Regions from separate parts of the Homo sapiens genome. Here region 2 is reported to be linked to region 1. The links are microRNA targets in miRTarBase. Many come from high-throughput screens and were not tested one by one. Region 1 holds a microRNA gene; the other region holds the end of a gene's coding sequence.

The links. The annotated mature microRNA hsa-miR-3180-3p reads UGGGGCGGAGCUUCCGGAGGCC and lies in region 1 at 1,604-1,625, shown strand. An mRNA with a match to its seed (bases 2 to 7 or 8) in the 3' UTR can be bound and repressed. Matches are read on the target gene's strand: a 7mer-m8 pairs with bases 2 to 8, a 7mer-A1 pairs with bases 2 to 7 and ends in A, and an 8mer does both.
Region 2: the mRNA of LSP1 is a reported target of hsa-miR-3180-3p. The part of its 3' UTR that is shown has no 7-base or 8-base seed match.

The regions. Positions count from the first base shown.
Region 1 is chr16:2,134,312-2,137,697 of GRCh38, reverse strand. It overlaps MIR3180-5 (microRNA 3180-5), which reads left to right and starts at 1,569; the gene lies at 1,569-1,721. It overlaps PKD1 (polycystin 1, transient receptor potential channel interacting), which reads left to right and starts at 1,800. Exons shown (of 46, transcript NM_001009944.3): 1 at 1,800-2,223. The coding sequence starts at 2,009. RefSeq lists silencers at 1,432-1,691, 1,702-1,871.
Region 2 is chr11:1,886,841-1,890,226 of GRCh38, reverse strand. It overlaps LSP1 (lymphocyte specific protein 1), which reads right to left. Exons shown (of 11, transcript NM_002339.3): 8 at 3,361-3,386; 9 at 2,913-2,990; 10 at 2,651-2,753. The coding sequence ends at 2,664. PRR33 (proline rich 33) reads left to right here. Exons shown (of 1, transcript NM_001395380.1): 1 at 1-2,149. The coding sequence ends at 1,082. Among named protein-coding and RNA genes, the nearest start is that of PRR33, 3.4 kb to the left of the region's middle. RefSeq lists a silencer at 2,854-3,020.

The DNA of each region.
Region 1 (3,386 bases):
TTTGTATTTTTAGTAGAGACGGGGTTTCACCATGTTGGTCAGGCTGGTCTCGAACTCCTGACCTTGTGATCTGCCCACCTTGGCCTCCCAAAGTGCTGGGATTACAGGCATGAGCCACCACGCCCGGCCCCCATGGTTTTTCAAATAGTTTAGAATTTCATTTCCAGGTAACTAATTTGCTTCTTTAAACATATGTCTTTTCTATTTAAGAAATCCTTTCTAAACAATTGCATTTTATTCCACAACCGCCTTCAAACAATCATTGAGACTTGGTTAATCTGTTTTGCTCATTTGGCAGCAGTTTCTTGTGGCTGTTTCTTCCCTCCACTGGAGTCCTTGAATCTTAAGTCTGTCATTTGACTGCAATTAAAAGCTGGGTTTGGAATACAATCGCAGCCTTACCATCCACCTGCTGTGTGACCTGGTAAATTTCTTTTTTTTTTTTTGAGACGGAGTCTTGCTCTGTTGCCCAGGCTGGAGTGCAGTGGCACAACCTCTGCCTCCCAGGTTCAAGCGATTCTATTGCCTCAGGCTCCCTAGTAGCTGGGATTATAGGTGCCTGCCACCATGCCCAGCTGATTTTTGTATTTTTAGTAGAGATGAGGTTTCACCATGTTGGCTAGGCTGGTCTCGAACTTCTGATCTTGTGATCTGCCCGCCTCGGCCTCCCAAAGTGCTGGGATTACAGGCATGAGCCACCACTCCCAGCCAGTTCTTTTTTTCTTTTTTCCATTTTTTTTTTTTTCGAGACAGGATCTTACTCTTTTGCCCAGGCGGGAGTGCAGTGGCACAATCACGGCTCAGCGCAGCCACTGCCTACTGGGCTCACACGCTCCTCCGGCCTCAGCCTCTCGAGTACCTGGGACTACAAGCGTGAGCCAGTTTGGCTAATTTTGGCTAATTTTTGTAGAAACGGGGTCTCGCCATGTTGGCCAGGCTGGTCTCCAACTCCTGGACTCAAGGGATCCACCTTCCTCCCCCTCTCAAAGTTCTGGGATTACCGGAGTGAGCCACTGTGCCCTGCTGGCAAATTTCTTAAACTGTCTGTGCCTCAGTGACCTCATTTAATAAAGGGAATAATTGTAGCACACTTTTTCTAGAGCTGTGAAGATTCAATGGAATAAATAAGGCAATAAATGAATGGATGGGGAATGAAGGATGTGGGTTTCCTCCCTCTTGTCTTTCAATAAGCTCTCACCATCAACCTCCCATTGCCTGTTCTCTCTCTTCCCCCTCTCTCCCTCTGTCTCTCTCTCAGCCAGGAAACCTGGGGTAGGGAGGCTTGGAGCCAGCGGGTGCGTCGGGAGGCTGCGGGTACTGACTCGGGCCGCGCACGGAGATTGCGGGAGAAGGATCCACACCGCGGAAGAAGGATCAGGGTGGAGCCTGTGGCTGCTGCAGGAGGAGGAACCCGCCGCCTGGCCCACACCACAGGAGAAGGGCGGAGCCAGATGGCACCCTGCCCACCGCTTCCCGCCCACGCACTTTAGCCTGCAGCGGGGCGGAGCGTGAAAAATAGCTCGTGCGCCTCGGCCGACTCTGCAGTGCGACGGGCGGAGCTTCCAGACGCTCCGCCCCACGTCGCATGCGCCCCGGGAACGCGTGGGGCGGAGCTTCCGGAGGCCCCGCCCTGCTGCCGACCCTGTGGAGCGGAGGGTGAAGCCTCCGGATGCCAGTCCCTCATCGCTGGCCCGGTCGCGCTGTGGCGAAGGGGGCGGAGCCTGCACCCGCCCCGCCCCCCCTCGCCCCGTCCGCCCCGCGCCGCGCGGGGAGGAGGAGGAGGAGCCGCGGCGGGGCCCGCACTGCAGCGCCAGCGTCCGAGCGGGCGGCCGAGCTCCCGGAGCGGCCTGGCCCCGAGCCCCGAGCGGGCGTCGCTCAGCAGCAGGTCGCGGCCGCAGCCCCATCCAGCCCCGCGCCCGCCATGCCGTCCGCGGGCCCCGCCTGAGCTGCGGCCTCCGCGCGCGGGCGGGCCTGGGGACGGCGGGGCCATGCGCGCGCTGCCCTAACGATGCCGCCCGCCGCGCCCGCCCGCCTGGCGCTGGCCCTGGGCCTGGGCCTGTGGCTCGGGGCGCTGGCGGGGGGCCCCGGGCGCGGCTGCGGGCCCTGCGAGCCCCCCTGCCTCTGCGGCCCAGCGCCCGGCGCCGCCTGCCGCGTCAACTGCTCGGGCCGCGGGCTGCGGACGCTCGGTCCCGCGCTGCGCATCCCCGCGGACGCCACAGCGCTGTGAGTAGCGGGCCCAGCGGCACCCGGGAGAGGCCGCGGGACGGGCGGGCGTGGGCGCGTTCCCTGGCCCGGGACGGGAAGCAGGACGCGGGCCAGGACGCTCCCAGGGCGAGGCTCCGGCGCGGCACGGCGGCCCTGCTAAATAAGGAACGCCTGGAGCCGCGGTTGGCACGGCCCCGGGGAGCCGAAAAACCCCGGGTCTGGAGACAGACGTCCCACCCGGGGGCTCTGCAGACGCCAGCGGGGGCGGGGCGCGGAGGCCGCGCTCAGCTGGGAGGACAAACAGTCGCTAATTGGAGAGGAATTGGGATGCGGCCTGGGGCTGCGGGGTACCCGGAGAGGTGGGGATGGCTGTAGGGGGCGGCAGGGAAGAGTTCCAGGAGGTGTCTGGAAAAGGATTTGATGGATGTGCAAGAATTGGGCTGATGCTTAGGAAGGGGCGATGAGGTGGGTCCAGAAGAAGGGGGGTGAACGGTGTGAGCAAAGACCGTGAGGCTGGAGGCTGGCCACGGGAGGTGTGAGGGGTAGGGGCAGGGTGGGAGGTGGGCTCGCGGGTGGGCTGGGGTCATGAAGGGCCTCAGGCGCTCTGCTATTGGGTTCCAAGGCTATCCTGAGAACAGGGGTGAGGGGGGATTGCCGTGGGGGGTTAAAGCCTTGTCATGTTCGCTTTCGGGAGATAAAAACAACAGGTGGCCTTTATGGAGACGCTGCCCAGAGCCAGGTCTGTGCCAGGCTCCTGTTGGGGGTCGTCATGCGGAATCCTGACTCTGACCATCCGAGGCATAGGGACCGTGGAGATTTGCATTTCACAGATGAGGAAACAGGTTTGGAGAGGTGACACGACCTGTCCCAGGCATCACAGCCGGGATGTGCATAGCAGGGGTTTGGAACTATGAGGTGCCCAGGACCCAGGGTTGGATTGAAAAGGGCGGAGGGGACTAAGATAAGCAGACAGTTGTCCCCAGCGCTGGGGAGAGTCTTGGGACCAGTCTGATGCCTTGTATTTCCCAGGCTCCAGGCTCCTCGCCGGGACAGTGTCTCCTTGGGTGCGTGCTGGATCCCTGGGGGACGTGGCACATCCCCAGGCTTGCTAAACATTGGGTGGGTTCTGGCATTTGGTTTTGTAACGTTTCTGGGTCACTCCCGCCTGTGGCCACCCTTCC
Region 2 (3,386 bases), not on the chromosome of region 1:
TCCACCACGTGGCATCACCCCTGCAGAAGTCCACGTTCTCCATCGGCCTCACCCAGCGCAGGATTCTAGCTGCTCAATTCAGGGCCATGGGGCCCCAGGTTGTAGCCTCGGCCCCAGAACCTACCCGGCCCCCCAGTGGCTTCGTCCCTGTCTCTGGGGGTGGGGGCACCCACGTCACCCAGGTGCACATCCAGCTGGCACCATCCCCACACAATGGGACCCCTGAGCCTCCCAGGACAGCCCCAGAAGTGGGATCCAACAGCCAGGATGGAGATGCCACCCCAAGTCCCCCCAGGGCCCAGCCCCTGGTCCCAGTGGCTCACATCCGCCCACTGCCCACCACAGTCCAGGCTGCCAGTCCCTTGCCTGAGGAGCCCCCTGTACCACGGCCGCCACCCGGCTTCCAGGCCTCAGTGCCCAGAGAGGCTAGTGCCAGGGTTGTGGTGCCCATAGCCCCGACCTGCCGCTCGCTGGAGTCCTCACCGCACAGCCTGGTCCCCATGGGCCCTGGCAGAGAGCACCTGGAGGAGCCCCCGATGGCTGGCCCCGCCGCTGAGGCCGAGCGAGTGTCCAGCCCTGCCTGGGCCTCATCCCCTACCCCACCATCAGGCCCTCACCCATGCCCTGTCCCCAAAGTTGCACCCAAGCCCCGGCTCAGTGGCTGGACGTGGCTCAAGAAGCAGCTGCTGGAGGAGGCCCCAGAGCCTCCGTGCCCAGAGCCGCGGCAGAGCCTGGAGCCAGAGGTGCCCACCCCCACAGAGCAGGAGGTGCCTGCCCCCACAGAGCAGGAGGTGCCCGCCCTCACCGCACCCCGGGCCCCCGCCTCCCGGACCTCCAGGATGTGGGATGCCGTGCTGTACCGCATGTCAGTGGCGGAGGCCCAAGGGCGCCTGGCAGGGCCCAGCGGTGGGGAGCACACCCCAGCCAGCCTCACCCGCCTGCCCTTCCTGTACCGGCCTCGCTTCAACGCCCGGAAGCTGCAGGAGGCCACCCGGCCCCCTCCCACAGTCCGCTCCATCCTGGAGCTGAGCCCCCAGCCCAAGAACTTCAACCGCACAGCGACTGGCTGGAGGCTCCAGTGAAGTGGCCAGAATGGCCCCCAGAGCCCAGGACCATGGGATGGACAGAAGAAGGGGCTGAGGCTCTAGCTGGGGGCCCATAGTTGCTGCATGAAGATGCACCAGGGCCCAAGGGGCATGGGGTGCAGGGCAGCCTGGGAAGGGCACATGGGGTGCTGAGGGAAGTCTGCATGGTTAGGAGGGTGGTCAGGTGGACGGGGCAGAGAGGACGAGCTGGAGCCCCTGGGCTGCAGTGGTGTGAGGGGAACAGAGAAGGGGTCTGCGTCGGGATGTAGGATGGGGGCCTTGGGATGAAAACTTTAGGTAAGATGGCAGAGGACTGCATCTACTGACCTAGCCCAGGCTCCTCAGGGGCCTGGGCCTCTCACTGATCCTCCCTTTTGCTGTCACCTTTTGCTGTCAAAGGTTTGGGGCCAGATCTCTGCTTGCTGAGGCATGGGTGCGGTCAGGCTGGCTTGGCCATCGGCGTCAGGAGCAGTCAGCAGTTTTGCTGCCTGTGCTTCCTGATGGCAGAGCCAGATCCTGGGACTAGGGTGCAGGGGGGAGCCCTCAGCCAGCGTGGGACTTGGCACCAATACAAGTGCTCAGGGGCAGGCAGGGAGGGGCTCATCAGGGGTGGAGGAGGGCCCAGCGTGACCTCTCTCTCGGCCCACCTCTGCTTCCCCTACCTGGGCTGACAGCCTGAGGGGGCAGAACTCGAGGGATTCGCTGGTGGGACAGCGAGGGTCTCAGCACTGGCCATGCCCAGGCTTTGACAGCTGGATGAGGAGGGAGCCCTCAGTCCCAACCCTATGGGAACAGCTTGGCCAAGCGGGACAGAGAAGGGGCTGTGGCCCTGGTGGGGAGAGTGGAGGGGCCTACTCAGCAGTCAGCCAGGCTCTGGTGGGGGTGGCCAACCACAGGAGAGGGACACAGAGGTACCAGAAAAAGCCTCTGCCACAGCTGCTTGAGAGTCAGGGTTTGGCAGGGGAAGATGGTAGGAGGACAGCTGCCCCACCCTGTGGTGTGATGGGTGCTGGAAATGGAGCCTGGGGCCCAGGTCACTAATAAATGTGTGTCTCACCATGGCAGGAGTGGCACTGCTCTGTCTGCAGCATGGGATGGGGAGGGCATCAGGACCTCTGAATCGCTCTCGGCTGGGACAGGGAGTAGGACCTAAGTTCCTGCCCCTCTATGGACCCTCAGCATACAGATGGTCAGGGAACCTGGGCTCCATGCCACCTGCTTCCTTCAATGCTAGCCCTGTGGTGGCCAGGCTGCCCCTCACTTCCCTCACGAGCCCTGCTGTGGCTTTTGGGGAGTCCCAGATGGGAGCCTTGAGCTTCCCTAGTGGAGCAGTGGCTGAGCCGGGCTGACTCTAGTGAAATGAGCAGAGAGTTTGAATCTGGTATCAGGTGAGAGAGGCAGCATCTGCACAGGACTGGGAGACTGAGCTGGTCTGGGTTCTGGCCAACTCGGAGTCCACCCTTGTAGCCTGCAACAGGGCTCCAGGCAGCCTCCAGGTTGCCAAGTTCCCAGCACAGTGCACGTGTGTGCACCTCATCCCCTTCTGTGAGTTGCCAGGGACTCACCGAGATGGGACGCCTAGGGAGCCGGGCCCCCTTCCACAAGCACCTTCTCATACTTCCCATGCCCGGTGGCCACAAACTTATACCTCTTCCCAGATGGGGTGCTCTGTTGGGAAAGGAGACCAAGAGTGAAGGTGAGAGCAGCAGAAAGGAGATGATGCTGCCTCCGCCTCTGGGAAGCCCTCCCAGATGCACAGAGGACAGTCCCTCTTTGCCCTCCCCTGCTGCACCCACCCTGCCTGCACCAACCACATTTAGGCTCTACCTTAATTGTTGATGAGGTCTTGGAGCCTCCCTTCTGCTCCCAGAGGCTTTTCTTGCTCATGTCTCCAGCCACAATATCCTGGGGGCAGCAGAAGGGTATGTCACAAGGGCAGACCCCTGGATCTTGGGGAGTAGAAGCCCTGGGCCCTTCTCTCCCGCCTTGCCTTACCTGGCCAGGGGGCCTGGGATCTGCCTACCTAAACTTTTTCTGTGTGATCCCAGTGGAAGAGGCAGGGAAAGGAATAAAGGTGCCATCTACCTCCACTCGGACAACACAGCCTTCTACACCAGCAAGGGTGAACCCAACCCTACTGCAATACCTCAGGGTTCTGTATACCCACATTCATCCTGGACAGTCCCATGCTTGTCTTAACAAGGAAACCCGGCCTGCTACTAAACTCCCAGGCGCTGGCTCTGCAGCCCAGCCTTGCCCCTGGAGGGGACCTTACCTTGCAGGACGGAGTCTTGGCCGCAG